Regions from separate parts of the Homo sapiens genome. Here regions 1, 2 and 3 are each linked to region 4. A link means that fine-mapping ties the variant in region 4 to the expression of a gene that starts in the linked region. Tissue or cell type: whole blood. Region 4 holds a variant in brackets; each other region holds the start of a gene. Each region is shown on its reference strand, or each on the opposite one.

The links.
Region 1: it holds the start of GPC4, and the variant in region 4 is fine-mapped to the expression of GPC4 in whole blood (TOPMed, PIP 0.92).
Region 2: it holds the start of ELANE, and the variant in region 4 is fine-mapped to the expression of ELANE in whole blood (TOPMed, PIP above 0.99).
Region 3: MADCAM1 starts here. The variant in region 4 is fine-mapped to the expression of MADCAM1 in whole blood (TOPMed, PIP above 0.99).

The regions. Positions count from the first base shown.
Region 1 is chrX:133,411,234-133,418,841 of GRCh38, reverse strand. It overlaps GPC4 (glypican 4), which reads left to right and starts at 3,353. Exons shown (of 9, transcript NM_001448.3): 1 at 3,353-4,036. The coding sequence starts at 3,877. RefSeq lists enhancers at 952-1,491, 2,614-3,114.
Region 2 is chr19:847,203-854,810 of GRCh38, reverse strand. ELANE (elastase, neutrophil expressed) reads right to left here and starts at 2,508. Exons shown (of 5, transcript NM_001972.4): 1 at 2,416-2,508; 2 at 1,779-1,935; 3 at 1,408-1,549. The coding sequence starts at 2,482. PRTN3 (proteinase 3) reads right to left here. Exons shown (of 5, transcript NM_002777.4): 5 at 6,636-7,012. The coding sequence ends at 6,842. RefSeq lists an enhancer at 3,274-3,986.
Region 3 is chr19:492,970-500,023 of GRCh38, reverse strand. It overlaps MADCAM1 (mucosal vascular addressin cell adhesion molecule 1), which reads right to left and starts at 3,538. Exons shown (of 5, transcript NM_130760.3): 1 at 3,473-3,538; 2 at 1,907-2,191; 3 at 1,199-1,528. The coding sequence starts at 3,524. It overlaps MADCAM1-AS1 (MADCAM1 antisense RNA 1), which reads left to right. Exons shown (of 3, transcript XR_936221.4): 3 at 164-255. RefSeq lists a silencer at 4,171-4,220.
Region 4 is chr8:60,729,871-60,737,478 of GRCh38, reverse strand. The region is part of intron 1 of CHD7 (chromodomain helicase DNA binding protein 7); the gene reads right to left. Among named protein-coding and RNA genes, the nearest start is that of CHD7, 55 kb to the right of the region's middle. The variant G/TG (reference allele first, on the strand shown) is at 3,687.

The DNA of each region.
Region 1 (7,608 bases), not on the chromosome of region 4:
CAGGCCATGAGAAGTGTCCTCAAAGCTGAGAGAGTAGACCTGGCTCAACCAGTTCTCTTGGATTGGAGGACAGAAGCATGGGAATGCATTCTTTGTTCTCTCTGCCCACCAGCAAATGTACCCTCCCCCTCCCAGTGTCATATCAGGGGAAACTCCTGACCTGGGAAAAACAAGTATACCATTAGTGCATTCTATCTAAGCAAGCCTTTGCACACCGTTTATAAAACTGTAAACTCCTTTTGGCTTATACATCTTCCCTTCCTCTAGGACTGAACATTGTCAGGCACATAGGAGGTGTTCAATGAACATTTATCAATCTAAAACAAAGATACTTCCACAGGACCTTGGCAGTTGTACATTCACTGCTGACAGTAAAAGAGACCCAGAGCACTGTGTTCTCTGACCAACAACAACAACCACAACAAAAATAGCATGGGATTTGGTCAGAGGCCTTAGATTTCAGTCTTGGTTTAGCCACCCAAGAGCTCTGTGGCTGTGGAGAAGCCACAGAACCTTGCTGAGACTTGGTTTGCTTATCAATTAAAAACAAACAAACAAAAAACAAAATATTCTAAGATATGAGGGTGCACCTGGAAGCACTGTGCAAACTTGTAAAGTGCTATATGAACAAAATGTGGTATATCCGTAAATGGAACATTATTCAGTCATAAAAAGGAATGAAGTACTGATACATGTTACCATATGGATGGACCTTGAAAACATGATGCTAAGTGGAAGAAGTCAGACACAAAAGCCCTGTATTGTATGATTCCATTTCTACAAAATGTCTGGAACAGGCAAATCCATAGAGACAAAGCAAATTAGTGGTTTGTAGGGACTGGAAGGAGAAGAGAATGAACTTTGAGTGCTTAATGGGTATGTGGTCTCCTTTTGGAGTGATGAAAATGTTCTGTAACTAGTGGTGATGATTGTACATTATGATTGTACTAAATGCCACTGAAGTGTGCATTTCAAAATGGTTAAAATGATACCAAATTGCGTATGTGTGTGCTTTTTACCACAATTCTAAAAAGCAAAAAAAAAAAAAAGTTATATGACGGTTAATCAGCCTGAGAAGTCATCGATTTTTGCAGTCAACATGCAGTCTCTATTTTTTGGCGTTGAGAGAACTTACAAGGAGTAGGTGCATCTCCACTAAGAAGCCTCTTCTGAAGACAGCAGGGATGGGAGTGGGAGAGGGAAGAAGGAGTTCTGGCCCATCTGAAAAGAAAGCTTCCCTTCTGGATGGTATTTGTTTCGTAGATTGCCAGTTGTTCACCCTGTTTGTATTTAAATGAAAGGAGGCTTTGAAGTGGGAGCCGCCTCTGAGCACGGCTTGGGGTTCCTGCCTCCCTTGGTAAAGTTCAGACTTGTCCAGATCTGTTTGTAGCCAGAGGTTACTGTTTCTGGTGGAAAAGGCTCAAGTTTGGGTTAATAATACATTATGAGGAAGAGCAGGAGTAAACCTGGGGAGGGCGGGGGCGGCGGGGGGGAGCGGCGGCAACGAATGAGTTCCTCCCAGCCTTGGTGTGAGAAGTAGCTTTCTGATTTGGCCTTCATGGTTCAGGAGTATCATTTTCTCTCTTACGGTCACTGGCTTCCATTTTATAATAATGCTCGTTGCATCTCAGAGCATATTCTCCTTGGTGAAGAACATCTTTAAGTAAATGTATCAATCAATGAAAATTAAAAGTGCTCAGCTAAGCCCTAGCAATGCCTTCAGGACTTGATGGTTACCAGTTTAAGGAAAGTCTTGAAAATGGCAGGAAATTCAATTGTAGTTGAGTTTGCACATTAAAAAAATTGCTCTCCTAGTTTCAGAGTTAAATATTCAGCCAGCCCACAGAAATTGGAAGTCACAGTTATAGACGGGTCACAGTCTGTTCATGTTGATAGTCTGTTAACAAAATGTAGAAGAGTCTGCAAGCAGGTATTCAAAATAACAGCTCCTCATAGCCAGCCATGTCAACGTGGTTTACAAACAACAGTGGAGAAAGTCTCAACAAACCCTCTGAGGGTGATAACTGTAATGATGGTTCGTATCTTTGCCCTATGTAATTTTATGGGAATTGAGAGTCTAGCCAAATAATAAGTTCCAGCCCTTTTTATCTGCCCAGTTCCCAGCACACTCCCGAGGTGTCTGAGGCACTTCTCAACCCAACCTCTTAAAGCAGATTGTAACAATAACAACGGTAATGACAAGTTCCCGAGCTGCACAGTTCCCTTCATTTAAGGAGCGCTGGGAGCTTCAAAAAAACACTCATTAATGGAATCTGACAAAGCTTGCAAGATGGGAAGTCTCTCCCATTTCCAGTTTTCTGGTGGAAAAGTGGGGACTGAGTCCCAGAGGGGTGTCAGTCTCTCTCAAGGGGCTTGAGGGGGTAGGGGGTTTGGGAGTCCTGGGCTACCATTATTCCATGAAATTCGAGAGTCAAGAGTCCCGGGTTCTGGACGCCCCCTTCCCCGGCGTGCTATTTACCAAGTCGCTTCCCATTTCTGGGCCCCAGTTCCCTTAATAGAAGGAAGGGTTGGGCCAAATGGTCTCCAAGATCTCTGCGGTCAACCCTGTCTTTGCCCCCTCACCTCGCGGTTGGGGGTTTCTCCCGCTTCAGAGTTCGGTTAGACTTGTAGTAGAACCGGGTCGGGGGTGGGAGTGGCGTCGAGGGGTTGGAGTGTTGCGGATGCGGGAAGGAGGATGCCTGATGGGGTCCTGGACAAACTGGTGTTTCACGAGTACCGTCCTATGGGAAGCAGGTCTGGGGAGACCAGGTGAGGCTCTAGGACGAGCTCGGAGCCCCAAATCCCCCTGCTGCCTGCAGCGAAACAATGCGAGTAATGTGCCTTCCCCGCCCAGCCCGGGAGCTGCGCGGATAGGAGCGTCCGCGGGTGCGGGATGGCAGCGGGGAGGCGGATATCGCGGCGGGAGGGCTCCGCGCGGCTTTTGCCCATAGGCGGCGGGTCAGGTGGCCGCGCGCAAGAAGGCCTGGGGCTCAGACATGGGCTTCGGGACAAGTCCCAGGCCGTCCCGTTCCCCAGAACCTGGGCCCTTCAGCCCGGAGTAGTTGGCCTTCCCTTTGTGGTTGGGGGGCGGTGGGCTGGCTCCCCGCCTCCGAGGAGGAGGGGAGGAAGGAGGAGCCGGGTGGGGCGTGTCACGCGAAGGAGCGCCGGGCGCCCGGTGCGGCCCCCTAGGAAGTGGATTTGGCCGCTCCGGATCCAACCCGGCTTCCAGGTTTTCTCCCGGCCCGGCCCAGCGTGCTCCCGCCTGTCTCCGGCCCCCCCACGACGCCCGCCCCCTCCCCCCGAGTGCCGCCCGCTTGGCCAAGTTTGCGGAGCGTCGCCGCGCACGCCGGCCAGTCAATCAGCGGCAGAGCTGAGAAGGGCACAGCCGCGCGGCGGAGGGCAGAGTCAGCCGAGCCGAGTCCAGCCGGACGAGCGGACCAGCGCAGGGCAGCCCAAGCAGCGCGCAGCGAACGCCCGCCGCCGCCCACACCCTCTGCGGTCCCCGCGGCGCCTGCCACCCTTCCCTCCTTCCCCGCGTCCCCGCCTCGCCGGCCAGTCAGCTTGCCGGGTTCGCTGCCCCGCGAAACCCCGAGGTCACCAGCCCGCGCCTCTGCTTCCCTGGGCCGCGCGCCGCCTCCACGCCCTCCTTCTCCCCTGGCCCGGCGCCTGGCACCGGGGACCGTTGCCTGACGCGAGGCCCAGCTCTACTTTTCGCCCCGCGTCTCCTCCGCCTGCTCGCCTCTTCCACCAACTCCAACTCCTTCTCCCTCCAGCTCCACTCGCTAGTCCCCGACTCCGCCAGCCCTCGGCCCGCTGCCGTAGCGCCGCTTCCCGTCCGGTCCCAAAGGTGGGAACGCGTCCGCCCCGGCCCGCACCATGGCACGGTTCGGCTTGCCCGCGCTTCTCTGCACCCTGGCAGTGCTCAGCGCCGCGCTGCTGGCTGCCGAGCTCAAGTCGAAAAGTTGCTCGGAAGTGCGACGTCTTTACGTGTCCAAAGGCTTCAACAAGAACGATGCCCCCCTCCACGAGATCAACGGTAGGTGGGCACACCCGGGAGGTGGGCGCAGAGACCGACACTTCGGGAAGGGAGGCTGCAACTCCCTTCCCCCGCCCCGCCGCCCCCTGCGCCGGACGCAGGTACACTAGAGGGAGAAATGGGCAGTCGAGAGGGCAGGAGCGAGCGAGCGAGAGAGCCAGGCAGCCCGGGCGCAGGACGTTCCCCGCGGGCGCAGCGCTCCCCCCTTCCCAGCACTGCGAGCGGAGGGGCGCCGCCGGGTTGCCCAGTGCGACTGTCGCGCTCCGCTCCCCGCCTCCGCTCCTCCTCTCCCCCCTGCATTATTCGCCGTCCCGGGAAGCCCCTGAGGACTGTGGCCCTCAAAGTGCGTGTCACCGGCTACTTCTCCTTTTCCGGGTTGAACTCCTTATAGGACGCCCCGCTTTGTTGTATGGGTGAGGAGAGGCCGGGTGGGGGTGGGGGTCGCCAGTGGGGTGTGGTGGAGGGAAACGTCCCGGAGCTTGCTAGATTCTGGGGGTCGCAAAACGTGGAACTTGAATTGATGTTTCATTGATGTTCTTTTAAAACTCTCTCCCCGCCTCTCTTGCACCGCTGACAAGGATTAGGAGTTTTAGTAGCCGCAACCGCTTCAGAAGTCGCCTTTAAAAAGCAAACGACTACCCCCACTCTCCACCCCTCCAAACCCTGACTTTTGGGAACTCTCCTACTTTCCGGAAGGTATCAGACCAGAGGAGTATTTTTCCCCTCTTTCTTTTTTCTTACCTCATTTTAAGGGTTAATTGCACTTTCAATTACAGACCTTTGAAAGGACTGATTACAGGAAACCTGAATCTCAGTTTGGAGATGGTTATGCAAATAGAGACGGCTTAGCCTGTGAGAAAGTTCACCGGATTTTGGCGCCGGTGGGGTGGGATGGGGGGTGTATGGGGGTATTTGTGAAAGCCCCTCTCGGAGCGCTGGGGAGGCAGCGTTCGGCGGGTGCCCTGCGTCCCTCCCAGCGAAGCTGGCGGCGGTGTCCGGCCGGGTCCCCTCCGGGTCGCACTGTCTTCTTAGCAGCGGCCAACTGTTGCGCGCAGCCCCGCCGGCCGCGCAGGTAGCCCGTTCGCCCTGGGGGCTCAGAAAGCACCACGAATCTAGCTGGCTGGTGGCCAGCGTAATCTAACGGAGGAGTGAGAGATTCGAGCCCGGGGGGGGGGCTGAGCCTCCACTCCGAACCTTTCATGGAAGTGAGTGGAGCGCGCCTTTGCCTTGCCGTGCTGGTCTCCGGGTGGGGCGGGCAGGGGGCCGGCAGCCAGCAAAGGAAATACTGTAATTTCAACCAGGCGCTTCCAAAGGCTTAGGAAGATTTGGGGGTCATTTTTTGGAAGGGCTATTAATAACCTTGGAGATTAAGTGCAGTCATCAATTACATATTAATTACAAAGGTAATTGAGGGAAGTTGCTGGGCACTTTTGGAGTGTAACTGGCGTCTGTCTAGAAATAGAAGCGAAGAAATTGTTGGAGCAGCCCAGGCGCCCACTGCACCTTGGCAGTTACCAAATAACATGCTCACTACTGATTAGACACTGTTTGCCCTTCAGCTGCCTGTCTTTTGGGGAGCTCAAGTATGTCCTCAAAGCGGCACGATTTTATTGGTTGTAGAGCCCTGAAAAGCCCTCTTTCTTTCCCTTCCTCCTGCCCCGCCAGAAAAAAAATGAAGTGAACCACCAGCCGCTGAAGCTTGGGGACTCTGCAGGTCAAACCTGGGGTCTTTGTGCCCTGCACAGTTTAGGCCTGGGCACAGCGGAGATGATTGGCGTGAAGGTTACAGTTGTCATTCCCACATTTTGAAGGGGTAGATGCAGCTCTGCACTTAATGGGAATGTGACAAGGTTTCATCTTCTGCTCATGCAAACAATATGTGCCTTTGATATTGACTGCAGGCATTCAGCGAGTGGGGTTGTGAAACTGCCCTCCCCAGTTTCCCCAACTTTGCTCTGTGCAGTCTTTCGCTGTGGCAGGGCATCTTCCCCAGCCAGCATCTCAGGAAAAAGGAAGCTTGAAGGGTGCTCAGAGACTCTGTGCTAGGTGTTCCCTTTGATTGTCATCATCCCCAGAAATCACCTGAGGGATATTTTGCGTATATGTCTATCTGGACATTCCCCCATGCCAAAGATAGGGGAGTTATTAGTGACCAGCAGCAGGAAATGGAAGCTAATGTGCTCACACCCAAAACATTTTATTCTTTTTGTCTTGTCCTTCATCTCCCTCCCTGGGCTGCTGCTTTTATTTCCCCTTTTGAATGACCTACTGGACTGCATTCTCCTGAGGAACAAAGGAAGTGCCTTTTTAGCTGGAATCCTTGGAAGACCACCAAGGACTTTAGCTCATGCAGTGCAATTTCGCACCACTTTCAACAATAACAAAAATGCATGACTGAATGGCTCAAAAATGTGGAGTGTTAGAGGCATTCATTTGAGTCTAGGACACTGTCACAACACAGACAGACCCAAGTAAATACCTTTAGACGGCCAGTATAGAAACAGGCGTAATCTTTACCATCACCCTGGCCTCTCCAGATGCATACATTAGCCTTGTCTTCTCTGAGCTACACTCAGATAATTTTGGTCATTTTTTAAGGGGGATAGTCAATATAGTGACTTGTATTCAGCCTAGGTCTGGATGGATTAATTGCCAGGCACTTTGCCTGGGATGGGGAATGTGCTTTTTTCAGTGCAAAACACCCAGGATCATTTTCCAGGTGAAGTATCACAAAGTCTGGGTACCTAGCTCATTGAGCCCCAGGCTCAGCCCAAGTTTAATGTTTTATTCCAGATGGCCTTGCACTTGCCTTCTAGAGGTTTGAACAGGCTTTAAGAATACTCCATGTTCTGGAGGAGTCTCAGTCTTTATAGATCATAGTTAGGATCATCTGATGTGCTCTCAAGGGTGTCAGGGAGTACATCATGCTGACAGGGCTTCCAACTGAGGTCCTGCATTGCCTGTCTGCTTGACCCCTGTACTTTTCAAATAATGCTGAGTCCAGGTGCCATGATCAAAAGGGATCTTTAACACAAAGATTATGTTTTTGTTCAGCTTTCAATGGCCATGTACTTTTGGAGCGCCCACTATGTGCAGTATCCTCTGCTCAGCATTGTGGAGACAGCAAGAAAGGCAGGAGGGGCTTCTGCCACCAGGACCTTTCCTATTAGTAAGGAGATAAGCCACGCACACACAAAATTAGAATACAACACAGTGGTGATAAGTGCCATACAAGCGATACAGATGACGAGAAGGGAGTGCCCAGGCATTTCAAAGAGAGAAGGGATTTAGGACTCTAATACTATAGAATATTAACTGGGTAAAGCTAGTTCACTAGTAAAAATGAAAATACTAATGAAGATAAGTTTAAAAATCTAACCATTTTCATTATGCCTCCCTCCATAAAGACAAAGGTAAAGGGTATGCAACAATGGGCATTTTATTACTCATCTATGTTGAAATTGTTTTTAAGAGTGAGGCAGTGGGTTAGAAGCATTCATGAACTTGCCAAAGGTCCTCTTCACAATGACATTGAATGATACTCAGAACTTTGTGCCCTAGTTGCAGTTTTG
Region 2 (7,608 bases), not on the chromosome of region 4:
TATTTTATATTTATTATTTTATAAAATAATAAATATTATAATTATAAATGATATTTATAATTATATAAATATTATTATAATTATAAAATAATTATAAATATTATATATTTTATTTAAATAAAATATATATTTATTATTTATAATATATGTATGTGTGTGTGTATATATATATATTAGCCAGACGTGGTGGACCCACGTGGTGGCACCTGTGGTTCCAGCTACCCCCCATTCCAAGCTGAGAGGGTGGCTTGAGCCCAGGAGATGGAGGCTGTAGTGAGCTGCGATCGCGCCACTGCACTGGGTGAGAGCTATGAGAAAACTTAGTGACAAGGAAACTCTCCCTCTAACCCTTCCCAGGGAGGAATCTTTTTTTTTTTTTTTGAGACCCAGGCTGGAGTGCAGTGGTGTGATCTCAGCTCACTGCAATCTCCGCCTCCGGGGTTCAAGCGATTCTCCTTCCTCAGCCTCCTGAGTAGTTGGCATTACAGGCACCCACAACCACACTCGGCTAATTTTTTTTTTTTGTATTTTAGTAGAGACGGGGTTTCACTATGTTGCTCAGGCTGGTCTCGAACACCTGACCTCGTGATCCACCCGCCTCAGCCTCCCAAAGTGCTGGGATGACAGGCCTGAGCCACGGGGCCCGGCGCCCAGGAAATAACCAGAACTGCAAGCCGCGGACAGGGGTGGAAAGGTGGGGACTTTTGCCCCTTTTCCCAAAGACAGAGGCGGCCCCTGCCCTGGGCCACAGGACTGGTGAATGGAGAGACACAAAGAATCTCAGTAAGTTTGTTGATTGACAGCAGATCGGGGCCTCCCTTCTCAGTAAGTTTGTTGATTGACAACAGATCGGGGCCTCCCTTCTCAGTAAGTTTGTTGATTGACAGCAGATCGGGGCCTCCCTTCTCAGTAAGTTTGTTGATTGACAACAGATCGGGGCCTCCCTTCTCAGTAAGTTTGTTGATTGACAGCAGATCGGGGCCTCCCTTCTCAGTAAGTTTGTTGATTGACAACAGATCGGGGCCTCCCTTCTCAGTAAGTTTGTTGATTGACAGCAGATCGGGGCCTCCCTTCTCAGTAAGTTTGTTGATTGACAACAGATCGGGGCCTCCCTTCTCAGTAAGTTTGTTGATTGACAACAGATCGGGGCCTCCCTTCTCAGTAAGTTTGTTGATTGACAGCAGATCGGGGCCTCCCTGCAGGATCTCATTTAACCCCTCAACGGCCCATGGCGGGTATTTTCCCGTTTCACAGAGGTGCAGACCGAGGCGCGGAGAGGGGACCACCCAGCCCACGATGCCACCCCAGGTCCCCACGAGCGGCCCCGACGCGCCCCTCCGTCGCAGCCTCCACCCTCCCCAGGCCTCTGGCCTCCGCCCCTGCGCCCCCCGCCCCGCCCGGCGGCACCTGGAGAATCACGATGTCGTTGAGCAAGTTTACGGGGTCGTAGCCGTTTTCGAAGATGCGCTGCACGGCGAACACCTGCCGGGTGGGCTCCCGCCGCGAGAGGTTATGGGCTCCCAGGACCACCCGCACCGCGCGGACGTTTCTGCCGGGGAGGGAGAGGCGGGGCTCAGGGGCGGCCCCGGGGGTCGGGGCTCAGCCGCGCCTTGTCGTCCCCATCCGGCGACGGGCCTGAGGGCGAAGGTGCTCGAGGGGCCCCGCGGGCCCTGGACGGACCCCCCCCCGCCAGCAGCCCCGGCCCCGGCCTCCCCCCACCCACCTCACAGACCGGGACGCGGGGTCCGAGCCGGGCGCGCACACTCCCGGCTACTCACACATTCGCCACGCAGTGCGCGGCCGACATGACGAAGTTGGGCGCAATCAGGGTGGCGCCGCAGAAGTGGCCTCCGCGCAGCTGCAGGGACACCATGAAGGGCCACGCGTGGGGCCGCGCTCGCCGGCCCCCCACAATCTCCGAGGCCAGCGCGGTGCCTGGGGACACACCGGGTGCGGGTGCTGAGTGCCTGCCAAGGAGCCTGTCCCCTCCCGGCCACGGGGCCTCTGGATCCCCCACCAGGAACCCACGGGATCCCCCACCGGGAACCCACGGGATCCCCCACCGGGAACCCACGGGATCGGGGCCGTTCGCACCCCTGTTGTTCAGATGAGGAAACTGAGGCACGGAGAGGCAAAGGGACCTCCCCACGGTGCCCCTCCAAGGCACAGACAGACCTGGACTTGAACCCAGAGGGCGACCTGCGACCCCCCCCCCCTCCCCGGTTTTCAAACCCCAACTCTGGGCTCCTGGTGGTGGCTTCACCGCTCAGAACCTCAGTCTCTTCTGGTCTCCTTGTCCCAGCTGGCACCTCCCCTGTGAGGATGAGGGACCCACACTGGTGGGGCCCTCTATGGAGAGGTGGGAACAGAACCCGGGACAGAGGGAGCAGCGGGAGGTTGGACTCAAAAACTCACCCCCCAGCAGCAAGGCCGGCAGGACACAGGCGAGGAAAAGACACGCGAGTCGGCGGCCGAGGGTCATGGTGGGGCTGGGGCTCCGGGGTCTCTGCCCCTCCGTGCCCGCCCGGCTCCTCTTATAGCCCTGTGCTGGGAGGCCGTTGCATTGCCCCACGGCCGGCCAGCGCCCTCCACTTCCTCTCCCCTGGCACAGGGCGTTGATGAAAAGGGGGAGAAGGGGGACAAGACGCTGGATTGGCTCGGGTGGGGCCTCCAGACAAAATTCAGGATGCACAATCGCATTCAAATGTCAGATAATCAATGTGGGTTTTTTAATTTATTTTTTTGGAGACAGAGTCTTGCTCTATCGCCCAGGCTGGAGTGCGGTGGCGTGATCCCGGCTCACGGCAACCTCCGCCTCCCAGGTTCAAGTGATTCTCCTGCCTCAGCCTCCTGAATAGCTGAGATTACAGGCACCTGCCACCACTCCCGGCTAATTTTTGTATTTGTAGTAGAGACAGTGTTTCGCCCTGTCGGCCAGGCTGGTCTTGAACATCTGACCTCGGGTGATCCGCCTGCCTCAGCCTCCCAGAGTGCTGGGATCACAGGCGTGAGCCACTGCGCCTGGCTAATTTTTTGTATTTTTAGTAGAGACGGGGTTTCACCGTGTTGGCCGGGCTGGTCTCGACGTTTTTTTTTTAATCTAAGTCTCTTCCAAATGAGGCCCAGGATATACTTACCCGAAATTCAGATTTAACCGAGCGTTGCTGTGTTTTTGCCAAACCTGCCAAACCTAGACCTGAGGGACTTGATGGGGGTGGCCTCGCCTGCCTCAGTTTACCCAGGGCCCCGTGATACCGGCCACATGCAGCTGTGTCGCCTGCCTCTGTTTATCCAGGGCCCCGTGATACCGGCCACATGCAGCTGTGTCACCTGCCTCAGTTTACCCAGGGCCCTGTGATACGGCCACATGCAGCTGTGTCGCCTGCCTCAGTTTACCCAGGGCCCTGTGATACCGGCCACATGCAGCTGTGTCGCCTGCCTCAGTTTACCCAGGGCCCTGTGATACCGGCCACATGCAGCTGTGTCGCCTGCCTCAGTTTACCCAGGGCCCTGTGATACCGGCCACATGCAGCTGTGTCGGGCACTCACTGCGCAATAGGCACTTCTCTGGTCCTTCCCAGGGTTCCTGTTTGGGAACTGAGGCACGTCAAGGGCCTCCCCCAGGAGCTGCGAGTGTAACCCAGGCCTCTGGGACCCGCAGCTGGACGGAGATCTGGGGCCGGCTCACTCCAGCCGCTCCCTGAACCTCAGGGCTCATTCTTGGGGGCCAGGCCTTCCATCCTCTCCTCGTCTGTTGCCTCCAACGGGGAACTCACTTTCACCCAGGCTCACGGTCAGTCCCTGGACACCAGCTGGGGCTCTGACAATCTCTCCCGCCCTTCTGCCTTGGTGAGCTTCCCTGAAGCCCTCCCCGCCTGAGGCAGGGGCTGGGCGGGCATCTGGCAGGGCTGCTGGAGAGAGAATTCCTGTCCAGGCCGGGAGGCTGGAGTGAGGACCAAGCCTGAGGGCTTCCGCCTGGAGGAACTGGCAGGGGAGCTGGAGTCCCAGCTGCGGGAAAGGGATTCCCAGGACCCAGCCCCGGGCTCCGGGCCCCGTTCCTCTTCCCATCTCCCCCACGATGTTCCAGCTGCAACGGCCGGGCCAAGGCTGTCGCAAGAACCAACGTCCTCCTGGCTCCAGGACAAGGGGAGGGGAAGGGAACCAACGGGCCTGTCTCCAGGAATAGGCGGGGCGAGGGCACCCGGGGACACGCAGAGCCTGGGCCAGGCTGGAGTCCTGACGTGACCACAGGCAAGTGGACCCCCATGGCTCTCGGGTTAGGGAGACAATGGCCCTGCCCTCCCAGAGCCTGGCACACAGCAGGCGCTCAGTCCATGTCTGCCCTGTCCTCAGCTTAATCAGACACACACTACCCTGCCTTCTCCCCTCCCCTTTTGGCAGGGTTCCCACCTTGCTGCCTTAACATCACCACAGTGCACTTAGTAAGCGCCTACTGTCTACACAGCCCTGTTTCAAGTCGGGGGTGGGGGGATTTCAGGGGTGGGGGACGCCGTATCTTTGGAAGGGGCTTGGCCTCCAGCACGGAGATCAGACTTGGCGTCAGCTGCATTTATTGAGCACCAGCTGTATACTACATTCTCACGTGCAGTCATTATTAAGTGTGCCGACGCTGGGTTCATATCCTGGTTCTGGTGTGGCCATTTGGCCACTGTGTAACTTCAGGCCCCTGAAATAAACTCTCCGTGACTCAGTTTCCTCCTCTGTAAAATTATAATCGTAGGATCCATCACATAAACCTGTCAAGAGGATGAAATAAATTCACGTTCATAAAGTTCTTAGCTAAGAAAGTGTTGTCTGGCCGGGCGCGGTGGCTCAGGCCTGTAATCCCAACACTTTGGGAGGCTGAGGCGGGTGTATCACCTGAGGTTGGGAATTCCAGCCTGACCAACATGGACAAACCCCGTCTCTACCAAAAATACAAAATTAGCCTGGCGTGGTGGTACCTGCCTGTAATCCCGGCTACTCGGGAGACTGAGGCAGGAGAATTGCTTGAACCTAGGAGGCGGAGGTTGCAGTGAGCCGAGATCATGCCACTGCACTCCAGCCTGGGCGACAGAGCGAGACTCCGTCTCAAAAAAAAAAAAAAAAAAAAAAAAAAAAAGAAAGTGTTGCTTTGAGAGCTGGTTCACCATTAACTGTGGCAGGGAAGGTAGGGGTGTTATGGTCACAGCGGGTGTAGACTCCGAGGGGGACGTGGGGTCTTCTGGGAGGCCAGGAGATTGCTAAGATTACAGTGACCTGGAGGTGTTCATATGTAAAGAGTCACTGAGGACCCACCTGGGCAACACAGCCAGACCCCGTCTCTACAAAAACTAAGAAAATAGCTGGGTGTGGTGGCACCTGTAGTCCCAGCTACTCGGGAGGCTGAGGTGGGAGGATCACTTGAGCCCAGGAGGTTGAGGCTGCGGTAAGCCAAGATTGCACCACTGCACTACAGACTGGGCGACAGAGTGAGACCCTGTCTCAAAAATAAATAAGTAGGCCAGCTGTAAATAAGTAAGTAGGCTCACGCCTGTAAACCCAGCACTTTGGGAAGCTGAGGCGGGTGGACCACCTGAGGTCAGGAGTTCGAGACCAGCCTGGACAACGTGGTGAAACCCTGTCTGTACTAAAAATATAAAAATTAACTGGGCGTGGTGGTCTGTGCCTGTAGTCCCAGCTACTCCGGAGGCTGAGGCAGGAGAATCGCTTCAACCCGGGTGGCGGAGCTTGCAGTGAGCCGAGATCACACCACTGCACTCCAGCCTGGGTGACAGAGCGAGACTCTGTCTCAAAAAAATATTAAAAAGAAAAAAAAAACACCAGCAATGAGCTTCATTTCTTCTCTACACGTGTCCTGGAGCAGGTCGTCCCCTCTCTGTGGCTAATGCCTCCTTCTAGTGGCCACTTGCCCGTCTTTGAGCTGGACTGTGAGTCCCACCTCTTCCCCGCCTCGGACCTCCCCTCTGGCCACCCCCCCACCCAGTTCATTGCTCATGCTTCTACCAGGGAACTCCTGCCCTGCCTACCCCTCCTACGAGAAATAGCGCTCCAACCCCATTACCCCTCCCCTGCACCCACATCCCTCCCCTGCCTGCCCTCCTCCCCGTCCCCTGGCCTCTAGCCCTCAGGTCTCTGCCTGGACTGTGCCCCCTGCCTGGCAGCCCTTCGGATGTTTCTGTTCACACCTTGATATGCAGCTCTGGCACTGCCACCTCCTCCAGGAAGCCCCCCAGGCTGCTTCCCCATCCCCATCCCCTTCCTCAAGGAGTCCCTGAGCCAGCAGGGACAGTTCTAGGAAACGTCTGGGGCGAGTCCATTTTCCAGATGAGGAAACTGAGGCACGGAGATGAATAACAACCTGCCCAGGGCCACCCTGATGGGGCCGGGTTAGAACCCACAGCCACGAGCATCCAGGAGAGAGACCCCCTGCAACCTGGGCCCCCATCCCCCGCTCCGACTCCCCCCATCCTGAGTTTGGGGCTCGGGGACTTGAACCCAGGGGACCTCTCCCTGGTTCCCTCCCTATATGGGAAGGACAGACAGGAGCCAGGGGGAGTTTCAACGTTTATTGAGGTCACGGTGGGCAGTTCCCCCTCCCCTCCCTATATGGGAAGGACAGACAGGAGCCAGGGGGAGTTTCAACGTTTATTGAGGTCACGGTGGGGTGAGGTGCAGGGCCGGCCTGTCTCCCGGAGCCCCGTGGGAGGGAGTGTGGGGGGACGGGTGGGGCCGTCCCGGACGCCACAGTGTTCGGGGAAGAGCTGCTTCTGTCCAAAGATCCGCCTCGAGGGTTTGGAGCCAGGCTCGGGGTCCCGGCCAGCGCTGTGGGAGGGGCGGTTCAGGGGCGGCCCTTGGCCTCCACACGGCGCAGCGTGGAACGGATCCAGTCCACGTAGAGGGCTACCCGCGTGAAGAAGTCAGGGAAAAGGCGGGTGGCACATCCCCAGATCACGAAGGAGTCTATTCCTTGGATGATGCCATCACAGATCAGGGGGCCACCTGAGTCTCCCTGGAGGACAGGGACGGCCAGTCACCCATCAGGGGCCACCTGAGTCTCCCTGGAGGATGGGGACGGCCAGTCACCCATCAGGGGCCACCTGAGTCTCCCGGGAGGATGGGGACAGCCAGTCACCCGGGCTGGCCCCAGGCAGCCAGGAAGGGGGCTGGGGTAGCCACAGCTGTTTCAGAATAAAATGCTTCCAATATGGAACTTTCTTTCTTTCTTTCTCTCTCTCTCTCTCTCTCTCTCTCTTTCTTTTTCTTTCTTTCTTTCTTTCTTTCTCTCTTTTTCTTTCTTTCTTCTTTCTTTCTCTCTCTATCTCTTTCTTTCTTTCTCCTTTTGTTTTGTTTTGTTTTGTTTTTGTTTTGTTTGCGACAGAGTCTCGCTCTGTCACCCAGGCTGGAGTGCAGTGCCGTGATCTCGGCTCACTGCAACCTCTGCCTCCCGGGTTCAAGTGATTCTCCTGCCTCGGCCTCCCGAGTAGCTGGCTGTCTTTCTCTCGAGACAGGGTCTCGCTCTGTTCTCCAGGCTGGAGTGCAGTGGCACAATCATAGCTCACTGCAACCTCGAACTCCCCAGGCTCAAGTGATCCTCCTGCCTTAGCC
Region 3 (7,054 bases), not on the chromosome of region 4:
CCTCCTCTCTGCCCACCCCAGCCCCACCCCCACCACAAAGACCTCCCGGGTCTCCCAGCTTCTGCTTTATCCCCGGGAGCCCTTTGCTTGAAACTCACGACCTCACGTCCATTAACATGGGTATCAGGGTGCCCCATGGGAGGACAAATCCCTTTTTCTTTAGTGGGAGAAGCCGGCAGGGGCTTCGGGATTGGACAGAGCGTGAAGGGAGCACCGCCAGGGCACCGGCCCACATTAAATGTCTTCATCCGAGCATTCAGCAAGGGTTTATTGAGCACCTGCTATGCCCCAGGCCCTGTTCTAGCTTCTGTGGACACAGCCGTGCGCGACACAAGATTCCCACCTGGGGAGCCACAGTGGGAGAAGGTCATGGAAAAGAGAATGTACGGGACTGGGGGATGTCAGATGTTATCCAAGGTGTCAAGAAACGAAACAGAAGGGAAAGGGGGCTCACACGCGTGTGCGTGTTTGTACACGCGTGTGCCTGTGTGCCTGTGTTTGTACACGCGTGTGGGTGTGTGCGTTTGTTCCCGTGTGTGCTTGTGTGCCTGTTTGTACACGCGTGTGCGTGTGTGCCTGTGTGCACGCGTGTGTGTGTCTGTGTTTGTACATGTGTGTGCTTGTGTGCCTATGTTTGTACACGTTGGGGATCAGGGGTTGACCCTTTAAACGGGAATCCAGGGAAGCCTCACGGAGGAGGCAACATTCTACAGAGACCTGAGGGGGAGGAGGAGAGAGCCGTGGAAAGATCCGGAAGAAGGGTATTCCCGGCAGAGGGCACAGCCGTGCAAAGGCCCCGGGGCAGGATCACGCCTGGTGTGTTGGAGGAACAGCGAGGAGGCGAGGAGGCCCGTGTGGCTGCAGCAGAATGAGGAGGGGGAGAAAGGGTGGAGGGAGGACAGGAAGGGGACAGGGTAGGTCGTGCAGGTTCCTGTGGGCCCCCGGGAGGACTTGGGCTTTGACCCCAAGGCAAGAGCCATGGAGCGCTGTGGGCAGGGGAGGGGTGGGACCTGTGCTGGGGGGCAGGTGCTCGGCAAATACATGTTGCGTCGATGAATGTCGCTGTCGCTGCGTGGGGGAATCCAGTCCTCCCAGCGCCCCACAGCACAGGTGCTGCCCCCCCACCCCCCCACCCCGTCCCGAAGTGCTTGTCAAGGCTGGCGAGCGGGTGGGTCTCCAGGGCACCCAGCGGACTCACCGGGGATGGCCTGGCGGTGGCTGAGCTCCAAGCCAGGCAGCCTCATCGTGGCCTGGCAGTAGAGGGCGGGCGGGACAGGGGTCCCCAGGGGCGGCAGCCGCCAGCGCTCTGTCACCCTGAACAGCACGTCCTCGTCCCCCTGGGGCTCCTCCTCCTCCTCCTGCACCTCCGGGCCCAGGGCTTGCGCCCCCTCCAGTTCCTGGCCCCCGACGAGCAGGGAGAAGGAGAGCGCGTTGGGGTCCACGGGCGTGACTTTGTGGGCCGTACAGGCCACCTCCGGGTCACCAGGCACCAGGGCTGCTGGGGAGACGGTCAGCTGGTCCGGGAAGGCTGTGATGGAGGGTCGGGGGTGAGGGCTGAGCCCAGAGTCAGGGCTGGACGTGATGGAGGGGCCGGAGCCCGGAGGGGCTTGGAGCTGGGGCCAAGGATGCGTGGGGGCTGCTGATGAACAGGCAGTAGGGACGGCCTGTGCGCAGGCCCCGTGGCCCCACCCTGGGAGGCTGGAATAGACAGGAGGATGGGCCAGGGCCGGCCCTGGGAGAGTTGGGGTGAGTTGGAGGGAAGCGAAGGCCGGGGACCTGGCTTCGGGGAGCTGTGCATGGAGCTGGGACCCTGCCTGCAATCTGGGAGGCTTCCAGGAAGAGGTGGCATAGGGAAGGAGCCGGGAGTCCAAGGGTCAGAGAGGCAGGGCGCGGGGGGACGCCTCACCGTACACAAGGAGCTGCACGGTGTGCTGGAAGGTGCGGCCCCCGCAGGAGCCCACGCACACGCGGGTCCCGGCCGCCGACAGCGAGGCGTTGCGCACGGTGAGGACGCTGCGGCCCGTGTCCGACTGCACCGCGCCCAGGCTGGTGTCCAGGCCCCGCCACTGCACCGAGGCCCCGCGGTCCGCGCAGGCCAGGCGGCAGGTGAGCTGGCGCGAGGCGCCCAAGGCCACGGCCACCACCGGCTCCGGGGGCTCCACCTGCAGGGGCTTCACCTGGAGGGACTGGCCTGCGGCGACCGCGGCTCTCGCTCAGCCCCGCGGAGTCCCGGACCCCGCCCCGCCACCGGCCCTGCGTCCCGCTCCACCCCCGGACCCCGCCCCGCCTCTGCCCGGTTCCCGGACCCTCCGCTGCACCCCCGGACCCCTGCCCCGCCGCTACCCGGACTCCCAGGCTCGGTCCCTGAACCCCGCCCCGACCGCCGCCTCTGCCCCAGTCCCCCGAACCCCAGCTGCCTGGAGCCAGTTTCGCTGCGGGTCAGGGGGCCGCGCGGAGCCCCGCAACTTCCCCTCTCAGCCCCTGCCTCCTCCGAGCCCCCTCCTCTGGCAGGATCACCAATCACCCCCTATCTCGGAGCCCCTTAACTCTGAGCACCCCTCGTCTCTCCCGCGCCCCCTCCGAGCCCCTCCTCTCTCCTGCGCCCCCTCTTAACTCCCTCCTCTCTCCCGCGTCCCCTCCCCGCTCACCGCGCCCCTTCCTCTCCCCCGGGCCCCCTCCCCTCTCCCGGGCCCCCCTTCTCTTCCGAACCCCCTCCCCTCTCCCGAGCCCCCTCCCCTCTCCCGAGCCCCCCTTCTCTTCCAAACCCCCTCCCCTCTCCCGCGCCCCCTCCTCTCTCCTGAGTCCTCTTCACTTTACTGCGCCCCCTGCTCTCTCCTGCGCCCCCTCCCCTCCGCGCCCCTCCTCTCTCCTGCGCCCCTTCTCTCTCCTGAGCCCCTTCTCTCTCCTGAGCCCCCTCCACTCTCCTGCGCCCCCTCCTCTCCCCTGCGCCCCTCCTCTCTCCTGCGTCCCTCCTCTCTCCTGAGCCCCCCCACTCTACTGAGCCCCCTCCCCTCTCCTGAGCCCCCTCCTAACTCCCTCCTCTCTCCCGCGTCCCCTCCCCGCTCACCGCGCCCCTTCCTCTCCCCCGAGCCCCCTCCCCTCTCCCGCGCCCCCTCCTCTCTCCCGCGCCCCCTCCACTCTCCTGCGCCCCCTCCTCTCTCCTGCGCCCCCTCCCCTCCGCGCCCCCTCCTCTCTCCCGCGCCCCCTCCTCTCTCCTGCGCCCCTCCTCTCTCCTGAGCCCCCTCCACTCTCCTGAGCCCCCTCCTCTCTCCTGCGCCCCTCCTCTCTCCTGCGTCCCTCCTCTCTCCTGAGCCCCCCCACTCTACTGAGCCCCCTCCCCTCTCCTGGGCCCCCTCCTCTCTCCCGGGCCCTCTCCTCTCTCCTGAGCCCCCTCCCCTCTCCTGAGCCCCCTCCTCTCTCCTGAGCCCCCTCCTAACTCACTCCTCTCTCCCGCGCCCCCTCCCCTTCTCACCGAGGAGGAGCCCCAGAAGCCCCGCCAGCAGGAGGGCCAGTCCGAAATCCATGCTCAGTCCCCTCTGTCCCGAGGCCGCGGGGAAGCCGCTTAAATAGAGGCGCCCACTCCTTCCCGCCGCCCGGCGACCCCGCTCCAGCTGCTCCCCGGGGGCTTCCCAAGGGGCTTTCCTGGCCTGACCCCCGACCCTGGAGGCGGCAGAGAGGCAGGGGCTGGGGGCCAAAGATGGGGCGGGGTCCCGGGGCCACTCAGGACGGGCAGGCAGGAAGGTCTGGGTCTGTTCCAAGCCTCATATTCAGGCACGGGAAGATCGCAGACGGAGGCCGGAGGGTCGAGGTCAAGTGCATGGAAGTGGGACAGAGGCTGGGCAGCGCCGCCCCCACCCCGACGGCGGGTCCCCTGCACTTTCTTTTCTTTTTTTTCTGAGTTTCGCTCTTGTTGCCCAGGCTGGAGTGCAATGGTGCGATCTCAGCTCACCGCAACCTCTGTCTCCCGGGCTCAAGCGATTCTCCTGCCTCAGCCACTCCAGTAGCTGGGATTACAGGCATGCGTCACCACGCCTGGCTAATTTTGTATCTTTAGTAGAGACAGGGTTTCTCCATGTTGGGCAGGCTGGCCTCGAACTCCCGACCTCAGGTGATCCGCCCACCTCGGCCTCCCAAAGTGCTGAGATCACAGGCGTGAGCCACCGCGCCCGGCCCGCCTGCACTTTCCCGGGCGGCCGCACAGGGGCGGTGGAGAGCAGCCCTCCCCCGTTCCGGAGCTGCAGGCCGGGTCTTGTTGGCTGGGGTCCCCTGGGGGTCAGGTGAAGGTCGCTGGGGATGGAGGCCCCCTGGACTGAAGTCTCCTGGCCGTGGTGGAGCTGTGAGACCCTCCAGGACGTGGGACAAGTCACCCCATCTCTGAGCCTGGCTTCCTTCCATCACACGGGCAGAGGCCGCCCACCTAGCAGGCCTGGCTGGAGCCTGGGAGCCCGAGTAGGGGCTGCCTCTGTTCCTTGGTCTACACTGAGACCTGGATCTCGGTCCACAAGAGGGATCTGGAAGGGATGCTGGCTGGACTCCCACTCACAGCTGCCATCAGCGAGTCCTGGGAACCTCATCTTCCAAACGCACTGGAATCCACCCACCTGTTCCTCCAAGCCCCGCACACTGGTTCTGTCTCCGCTGGTGGCTTGTTTACCCCCCTGCATCACCGGGACCCTCCCAGGGCCTCTGGGACTCTGCCCGGGCTGCTCCTCACCTTACCCAGGTTCTGCCCACCCCCTCACCCCCTCGCCCCCCACCCTCCTCCGCTGTGGTTCCCAGGGTGCTCTGCTCCTAGCTCAATGAGGGCCTGTGGTGGCAGTCGTGATGGCTGGCTCCCCTCCACCCAGGGGCCGGTCCTGTGACCCTGGACCCCATGCACCGCAGGCACGCGGGAATAAAATGATGGAGCATTCCTGCTGACCTCAGGGTCTGTCTGTGCCTCAGTTTCCCTGGCCATGGAATAAAAAGCAGCAGCCAGTCCATGGGGTTCCAAGCATTGCCAATCGGCTTACCTGTCAGAGGAGGGAAACTGAGGCCCAGGGGCAGGGCTGGGACCAGAGGAGGGAAACTGAGGCCCAGGGGCGGGGCTGGGACCAGAGGAGGAAAACTGAGGCCCAGAGGAGGGGCTGGGATCAGAGGAGGGAAACTGAGGCCCAGGGGCGGGGCTGGGACCAGAGGAGGGAAACTGAGGCCCAGAGGAGGGGCTGGGATCAGAGGAGGGAAACTGAGGCCCAGGGGTGGGGCTGGGACCAGAGGAGGGAAACTGAGATCCAGGGCAGGGCCTGGGTGCAAAGGAGGGAAACTGAGGCCTAGGGGAGGGGCTGGGTGCAGAGGAGGCAAAATGAGGCTCGGGGGAGGGGCTGGGTGCTGAGGAGGGAAACTGAGGCCTAGAGGAGGGGCTGGGTGCAAAGGAGAGAAACTGAGGCCTAGAGGAGGGAAACTGAGGCCCGGGGTGGGGAAACAGTCCCCTCAGAGGTGAGGGCCCAGGTGTGTGAGCTCACAGCCCTGTCTCCCTGGGTCCCATCCCCCTCCTGCCCAGGCTGGTGCCGGGAAAGGCCTCACCGGAAAGCAGACTCCGAGGAGGGGCCCTCCCCAGGCCGGAGGTGCAGGCCCTTCCCGGGAAGCTGGGCCCTTAACCCGGGCGGGGGGCAGCAGGCCTGGTGAATGGGCTGTTTCCCAGCCCCCGACCCTACTTCCTGCAGGTGGGGAGGGACCACTGGGCGCCAGGAGGGCTGAGGCCCCTTGCAGGGTGTGTCCCAGCTCTCCAGGGCCCTGTCCCCCGCCCGCCCGCTGGGTCACGCGTGGTGATCACGCTGCTCACAGTCCCCGTGTGCCGAGCCCTCACATCCACAGGCTTGTGGGGGCGGGGAGACAACAAAGCTGGGGTCCCCCTGAGGACAGGGCAGGTGGGATGGACACAGGAAGGAGGAGGGAGGGTTCCCAGAGGCAGAGGGACCCGCAGGTTTCAACGGCCAGAGGTGGGGAAGGCGGGGGTGAGGGAGACACAGAGACAGAGAGAGAGAGACAGAGACACAGAGAGACAGAGACAGAGTGAGGAAGAGAGACATAGGGAGACAGAGACACAGAGAGGGAGAGACAGATCAAGGAAGAGAGACAAGGCAGAGAGACACAGGGAGATAGAGACACAGAGAGACAGAGACAGAGCGAGGAAGAGAGAAGGCAGAGAGACACAGGGAGACAGAGACAGAGACACAGAGAGGCAGAGGCAGAGGGATGGAGAGACCGAGGTGGGCCAGCAGCCTGAGGGCCGGGGAGGACCCTGAGACCCCTGGGTCTGAGTCCTAGTCCCACAGGAAGGCCTACACCGTATCTTCCGCCGGCAACGGGGACCTCCTTTTTGTCCTTGGGAGACTCGACCCCGCCCCCAACATCAATCCCCTTCCCGGCATTGTCCTCGGCGGCCTCCGTCAGGAAGCCCCCTTCCCATGGAGGGTCCCAGCCAGGAAGCCCCCCTTCCCATGGAGGGTCCCAGCCATCCCACCAGCCCCAGACCCCACATCCTGGCCTCCCTGTCCACAGCTGCCGAGGGAGCGTTCCAGATGACTGTGTTGCCCTGAGGGGAAGGGGCTGTGAGGGCGCCGTTGTCCAGGAGCGGAGCACGCCCCAGGCCCTGACAGACCCTTCTTGACCCAGCTGGGCCAGCTCTCCTGTCTCCCACCCACTGGTCAGTTCTGGGGTCCTCATGGCTTTTTCTTTGGAGTGAGGACCCCCATCACGGCAGGGCCTCCTTGTTGGACAAGGCTTGAACCCAGTCCAAGGACCCCAGACCTGAGGGTCGCAAGGAGAGTGGGGGAGGAATGAGATTGATGGAGGCTGCAGGAGGGGGTTCAATAAGTAGCCATGTGCATGCATGTGTGTGTGTGCATGCGTCTGTGTGCGTGCATGCGTGTGTGCGTGTGTACGTGTGGAGTTGTAGCCATGAAGCCCACGATGGGGGTGGGCCTGGCTCCCGCATCAGGTTTAAGGAGGAAGGATCGACCGGGCGCGGTGGCTCACGCCTGTAATCCCAGCACTTTGGGAGGCCCAGGCGGGT
Region 4 (7,608 bases):
TTAACAGATGAAAAAAATCCTTTTATAGACTGAGAGGAGTAAACTTCTTCTACAAAACATTTTAGTGACAGTTCCCAAAGATGAAAGAAATGAATGAATGAATGAAACAGCAGCTTACTAGTGAGGACAAAATATTAAAGGCCTGCATCAAGTCTGTTTTATTCAGAGAATCACTAAAACTGCTGCTGCCATCAGCAAATAGAAGTGAATTTCCTTTCCAAAAATGTTTTTAAATCATACTATATATAACTTTTAGGAAACAAGCATATATCAACACCAAATTGGAGCTATTGGTAAATTTTATTGGGAAATAGTCAAATGAAAAACGGGCAGATCCAAGCACAGACAGAATCAATGATAAAAGCAACGGGTGCGCAAGAAACCAAGATGAAAGAAATGTCACTGAAAATATTAATATTTTGAAAAATATATGTATATATAAAATTTCTTAATTATAACACATGTTAAATTTTTACTTATTAAATTTATTTTATATATAGTGATTTTCTGACCTTCCAAAACAATATAAACAATTATTTACTACACTCTTCTCAAAGTAGAATGGCATTTGTATAGCTGAGTTTTAATTTTGTAGTGACGCAGAACCTTTTAGCGTCACAGGTGTGGACTAGAAACCTAGCAAGGAGATAGGTGAATACGTAACACCTTTCACATGCAAAGTATCTCCTATAGCTCAAACACTATTTGTCCTATTGTGTAAGTAAAATGTCATCCAAGGGAAACTTTTTTGATAAACAGCCAACACGTGGGCAAGAGTGAAATCATAGGACATTTGCCTATTGGATACTGAAGACTATTTTGCTGCTTATGGTTTGATTTTGAGTTGTTCTATTTAAATTTCTCTCTTCCACCTCCAAAGAGCGTGAGGTATAGAACATCACTGTGATAATGATTCTGGGGATGAGGGTGGAGCATGAATCAGAATTTCCAAGGAAGCATTTTGCAGCTAAAAAAACAGCACATCACCACCCTCATCATAACCCATGGAGACACCTCTCAATCATCAAGGCTGCAAAACATATCAAGAGAGGCAAAGAATCCACACACTGGTAGGTGGACAGACCGAAGACAAAGGGCTCACACTGCTGAGCTTCCACTCAAAGTGAAAGTCCTTTCAGCTAGATCCTGAATCCGGTTAACAGGAATCTCCTCCCACTGCCCCACCCACAACCCAGCCCCCAACAGCCACTTGGGAACATCTAGCAGGACCAATGCTTGCTGATGAAGGAGACATCTATCCAACTGACAAGAACCTGGATAAAGAATCAGGAAGTGCCCCCCAAGTCACCAACACCAGCTTATCAGTTCACCACAAAGTATTTTCCGTATTTGCTTCATGGGTCAAATGATGCCCTTCCTGAACCCCCTGGGTTGGCCAAGGGGGCCAAGACCACATTTTCTTCCTGGCCAAGACCACATTTTCTTCCTCATTAGTATGCTAGGGCATTGCCAATACTCTATGACGGTGCTGTGTAATCCAGAAGCCACCAGCCACATGTTGTTATTTAAACTACTTAAACTAAATAAAACTTAAAATTCAGTTCCTTAGTCGCACAAGCCACATTCAAGTGCTCAAAAGCCACATGTGGTTGGTGGCTACCTACTCGACAGTGCCTATAATGAACATTTCCATCACTGCAGAAAATTACATGGAAAGCACTCCTATGTATTTCTTCTTAGAGGTAACATGTTTAAACAAAGACCATATTAAATAGCAGCAATCCTCTTTCATAAAAAATATTTTCTCCTCTTTCAGAGATTAGTATTCTTTTAAAGGTCCATATCTACCCTTTGGGATGAAATATATGTTATTTTTTCCATATATCATATTTTATGTTAACTATACTTACAACCTATGTCTCCTTTCTGTATTATCTCCCAACATATATTCTTATTTCTTCATAAATAATTTTCAGTATGTTAGGAATAATTCTCAACTATACACAATTCAGAAAAAGATTTAGAAAAAAAAGAAGTATGTGAAGTCCTTCTAAGGTCTGTTTGTCCCCAAGCATCATATTAAAAATAAAACCATAAATAGTAATAAGGATTGTACTGGTAACCTCCATTCATATTACTAGGTTACCTCCCATTTTGCTGATATTAACAGAAGAGACACATTTTTAATAAGGAAAACCACTGACATCGTATAGGGCAACGCTACGCCTTATGTTAGCATTCGCTATGACAGTAACACCATCTCCATCCACCTCTTCAACCTAGCCAAACAATGGGAAATAAGCCTAGATCCTTCCTGTCATCATTCATTTAAAAAATATTCAAGGTTAACAGACACTGTGTATACAGTGTTGAACGAAGCAGATGTGGCCCTGTCCTCGTGCAGCTTGCAGTTTGAATAAACGCCCCAGTACATCCCACATATTCAGTGCATTTCCCAACCTGCTAATGCTCTCTCCCAGATATTTATGGGTCTAACTCCTCCTCCCTGTTTACACTAGCTCTGAAGTAATCAGACCTTCATGGTTTAGTGAACCACAAAAAATTAGAAATCTAATCAGTTCTCCTAATTCTGGTCTCAACGCTTTCACACTACTGATTGAATGATCTTATAAAACACAGATTACATCATACCTCTCCCTGATTAAAATCCTTAAAGGACCTCCCATAGCTTTCAGGTTCCAGTCCAAATGCTCCAGCATGCTTGAAGGCACTAATAATCAAATCCTTATTGACCTGTCCATTCTCAACTCCCTTAACTCCCTTCCCTCTATCCCCTGAAGCACTCACAAACACCCCCATTAGGTATATCAAACTACTCAAAGTTTACCAACCATCCATCAGCTATCTCATACCTTCCTCGCCTTCACACCCATGGTCTCTTCCCTGGCCTCCTTATCCCCTCACTGTAGAGGCTGGCCTCTTTTTCATCTCAGTTCCTTTGTTATCACCCATCTTCGGAAGCTTCCTGACCCTCAACCCTCCCTCTTCAGGCTGATTTCAAAGCCCTTGCTAGCAGTACCACCACATCAACATGGGCAGAAGCTACAAAAGTGCCAAGCACGCTACTATTCTTATGTGTTCACCTCCCTCTCTTTCTGGCGACTGGAGCCTTGCCATGTGAAGTGGAATCCTGAGAGACAGGACCCCTGGCACCCCCGGGAGCTGGTAAGAGACGCAGACTCTCAGGCTCACCTCAGACCTCCTGCACCAGAATCTGCCTTTATTAACAAAGGCCCCAAGTGATTCCTGTGCATGTGAAAGTTTGGGAAGTCCTGCCCTCAGACTCTGAGCTCCTCCTACAGGATAGCACACTGACCACTCAGTTAATATAATGGATCAACAACAAATGGCACATGTTACAAAGAATATTATAAAGCAATACAAAGATATGTCACTTAAAGAAAGTAGTCTTGACATTTGTGTCTGACAAATAAACAATACTGACTTCATTCAAAGAATTATGAACAGCCCTTAGTGACAAATTTAATCTGTAACAGTTTACAAGGAGTGGGTATCTAAAGATGGTTTAATTTTAAAGATATGCCCATCTGTTTGCCAATCATTTGTGCAAGTCAAAAAAATGCAGTTAACATTAATATCTAATGCTATGTTACATAACATACTATTTCACAGGTTTCTTGCAGAAATCTTTCAGTTATTTCTACATAACTTTGAAGACTCTGGATATTCTGAGTAGCCTTTAT[G/TG]ATAAAAAAAAAAAGCTGTTCTTTTGTTCCTTCATGCAGTATTGAGGCTAACGTTTCCTTTCAAGGCAACTAATGAAATAGCACTTGGCTAACAGCTTATACTAAGTGCATGCCCACAGCACTAGCTTTTTCCAAAGTGGTCAAAAGGAGTATATTACCCCATACATAAATTATGCCACAAAAGCACAAGGATCATGAAAATTTGTGTCCTTTACACCCTGCAATTCAAAATTCAAATACCTCTCTGAAGCTAACTCCTAAAGGCTAAGCCCACTGAGAAGGTGGCCAGCACCTTGACCCTAACGTGGAGACAGCTGACCTGCTGCCGCAGTGCAGACACTAAGAAAATATGTCCAGCAGGGTCTTCATTCCATGTACACAACATGTCCTAGGAACAGATGGGCACACATTCTAATAGCACCTGAAGTACTCAACATTGTATGGCAAAAGAGAAATGAAGACAAACATGTATCTATATATACCATACCTAGGTGTAGATCACATATGTAGCTACATAAAATATGTGTATCTATCCCATATCTTTTTTTTTTTTTTAAGAGACAGGGTCTCGCTCTGTCACCCAAGCTGGAGTGCAGTGGCACAATCATAGCTCACTGCAGTCTCCCAACTCCTGGGCTCAAGTAATCCTCCCAGTGCGGGCTCCCAAGTAGTTGGGACTATAGTTGTGTACCACCACACCCAGCTAATTTTTTTTTTTTCCTGGGAAACAAAGTCTCACTATGTTGCCCAAACTGGTCTTGAACTCCTAGGCTCAGGGAATCCTCCTGCCTCAGCCTCTTAAAGTGCTGGGGTTACAGGTATGAGCCACTGCACCAGGTCTCATATCTTTTGAATGTTATCCTAATTAATTGTAATATGGTAGAGAAGAAAATCAAATGAAGAGACAGGTCTAGAAATAAGTAAATGAAAACTTTTTAAGTAATTTATTTTGGATAGGAAAAAAATTAAATTTCAGAAATGTATTTCAACCCACCTGGCAAGAATGCTTACAGTGCAGACTTATGGAAGAGTAATGTATATTTTACAAAATTTGCTGATTGCTAGTATGTATCTTGCTTAATATTATAAAATATCCTGGGTTTTGTAAAGCCCAGGGTGGTGTATAAAGGCTAGTAACACCATGTTTATTAGCCTGATTTTAAAAAAATCACCATTAGGAAAGATTTTCCCACTTATTCTAGACTTATTTCAAGCTACTGACTTGACACACAGAAGCTCCAGGTGATGTCAAGCCTACAAAAAGTGAGGGTGGAACAGAAGGAAGGGAAGGAAGGAGCTGCCCTGTGGCCATGCTCTGTCTGGGGACCCCGTGGCAATCACCAGCTCCTATAAGGCTGACACTGAACCTCTGGAGGAGGATGCAGAGGTGAGGCAAGGGCAAGCATGCAGAGGGGCTGAGAAAGCAGCAAACAGCTAGCTGCTCTTGTAAGAAGCGTGCTCTTCGTGTACTGACTGCAGTTGTCACTGATTAACTAACTGATTTGGCAATTTCCTACATTCTTCTACATTTTAAAAAATTTCTGGAAAGCTGAAAAGGGATCTTTTTTCATATTCTGGGGGAGTTTAAAAGTGTACTGAATCCTGCCTGGTTTGAAAGGCAAGGGATAGAAAGGGTGTAAACAGTCTTTTCTGATATACACCACTGACATTCTTTTCCTTAAAGGGAAAAAAACAAAACAAAACCCTGGGCAACATCACAACTGAAAAGAATTTGTCTATTCTCTTTGCTAGAACAGTGCACATGTGATAGGAAGGGAGTCTTATCCATCATGAATAAACCTGAGCACAGGACAGGCAAAGCATCACAGCATACCAATGGCAGGGGCCACACAGGGAGCTCCAGGGCTTTCGAAGACCCATGCCTGTTAAGGCAATGCAAAAAAGAAATACACAGGAATTATAAAAATTCAGATTTCCATTAGGGAAGCAAGCAATACAAACAGGAGTTCAAACTGTAAAGGAAGGTTGAGATCTTTGGAAGAGTATTAGAAAAAGTATTTTGGAAAACTGCACCCAATCTCAAAAAGGTAAACCTACAGGAAGAAAAAAAATGAAGAAAACAAATGTAACTTATTCAGTGACTATGACACTAAATTTTGGTTTCAAATCAAGTTATATTTGACAAAGGAGATGGAATTAAGGCTGAAATACAGAGTTAACAGTTGCATATCCAATATTTCACAGTCATTTCAACTTATAACAAATTTGGGAAACATTTTTTCTATGCAGTAGTCCCCCTTCATCCTGGGGATACGTACCAAGACCTCTAGTGGACACTCAAAACCATGCACAGTACCAAACCCCATTGCCGTCAGTTGGAACACATTTCTATCCATGTCTTCCACCCACAAATTTAATGTATTTTCCATCTTAACTAAGCATTTATCAGGCACTGTGACTGTAACTTTTGCAGTTTGAGATACAACAGCAAAATTAGCACAAATTTGTTTTTCCTTCCCCACAATTTAACTGATAGAAGATTCATTCTTACCATAAATAATACTTATGATTTATTTATAAGATGTATATCTCAATACACAAACTTTTTTCTTTATGAGCTTTTACCTTTTCATTTAAAGGAAGCATTTTCCTGCTTATCTTTGGCATATCCAAATCACCAGCATCACTACTCTTGCACTCTGGGGCCATTCTGAAGTAAAATAAGGGTGACTGGAACACAAGCACGTTGACACTGCCACAGTTGACCTGATAACCACAAGATGGCTACAAAGTGACTGAATGGGCAGGTAGCATCTACAGTGTGGGTATGCTGGACAGAGGAATAATTTATGTCCTGGATGGGACAGTGCAGGTCAATGCAATACTTCATCATGCTACTCAGAAGGGTACACAATTAAAAACTTAGGAGTTATTTCTGGAATTTTCCATTTAATATTTCCTTTTTTTTTTTTGAGACAGAGTCTCGCTCTGTCGCCCAGGCTGGAGTGCAGTGGCGCGATCTCAGCTAACTGAAAGCTCCACCTCCCGGGTTCACGCCATTCTCCTGCCTCAGCCTCCCAAGTAGCTGGGATTACAGGCGCCCGCCACTATGACCGGCTAATTTTTTGTATTTTTAGTAGAGACAGGGTTTCACCATGTTAGCCAGGATGGTCTTGATCTCCTGACCTCGTGATCCACCCGCCTCGGCCTCCCAAAGTACTGGGATTACAGGCGTGAGCCACCACGCCCGGCCTCCATTTAATATTTCTATACCAAAGTTGACCGCAGGTAACTGAAACCACTGAAACTGAAACCTTGGAAAGCAAAAACTTGGACTGGGGTGGGGCAGGGGGTCTACTGTACCTACATTTATCATTAATGCAAGTAGGTTCTACAATGCCACCATAATCAAAACTATAAATATCACACAGCGAAACATGCCATCTTTTAGCCAAATTAAATGTCTTCATTCATATTAGCATATGATAAAAGACAAAGTTTTATCCACAAACTCTGTATATTTAACTTAACATCTTCCTACATCTTCAACAAAGGTTCAACCCCAAACTGGCCTCTCTCCTTATTCCCCAGCAGTCATCTGGGTTTCCTTCCTCCAGAGAGTCATGTACTGGGGGAAAACTAACTTCAAGAAACATCTTTTATAATACTATCAGTAATTAACTTACAAGTTACATTTGCTTTTTTTAAAACTACAATACAAAGCATTTTGTAACAAATTCTTTTATTACTTTTTTTGCACCACCATGCTATTCTACATCATTGAGCATTGACTGTAATGACATGCTTCTGGCTCACATATTTTCCCTAAAAATCATTTGACTAACCAATTCTAATTTTAAGTACTTCATACATATGAGTGTACAAGACTCTTGATATTAGGACAGCAATCTAACTTGTAAGTAAACTTCATATTTCAGTTTGAAAAAAGATCACACTTTAA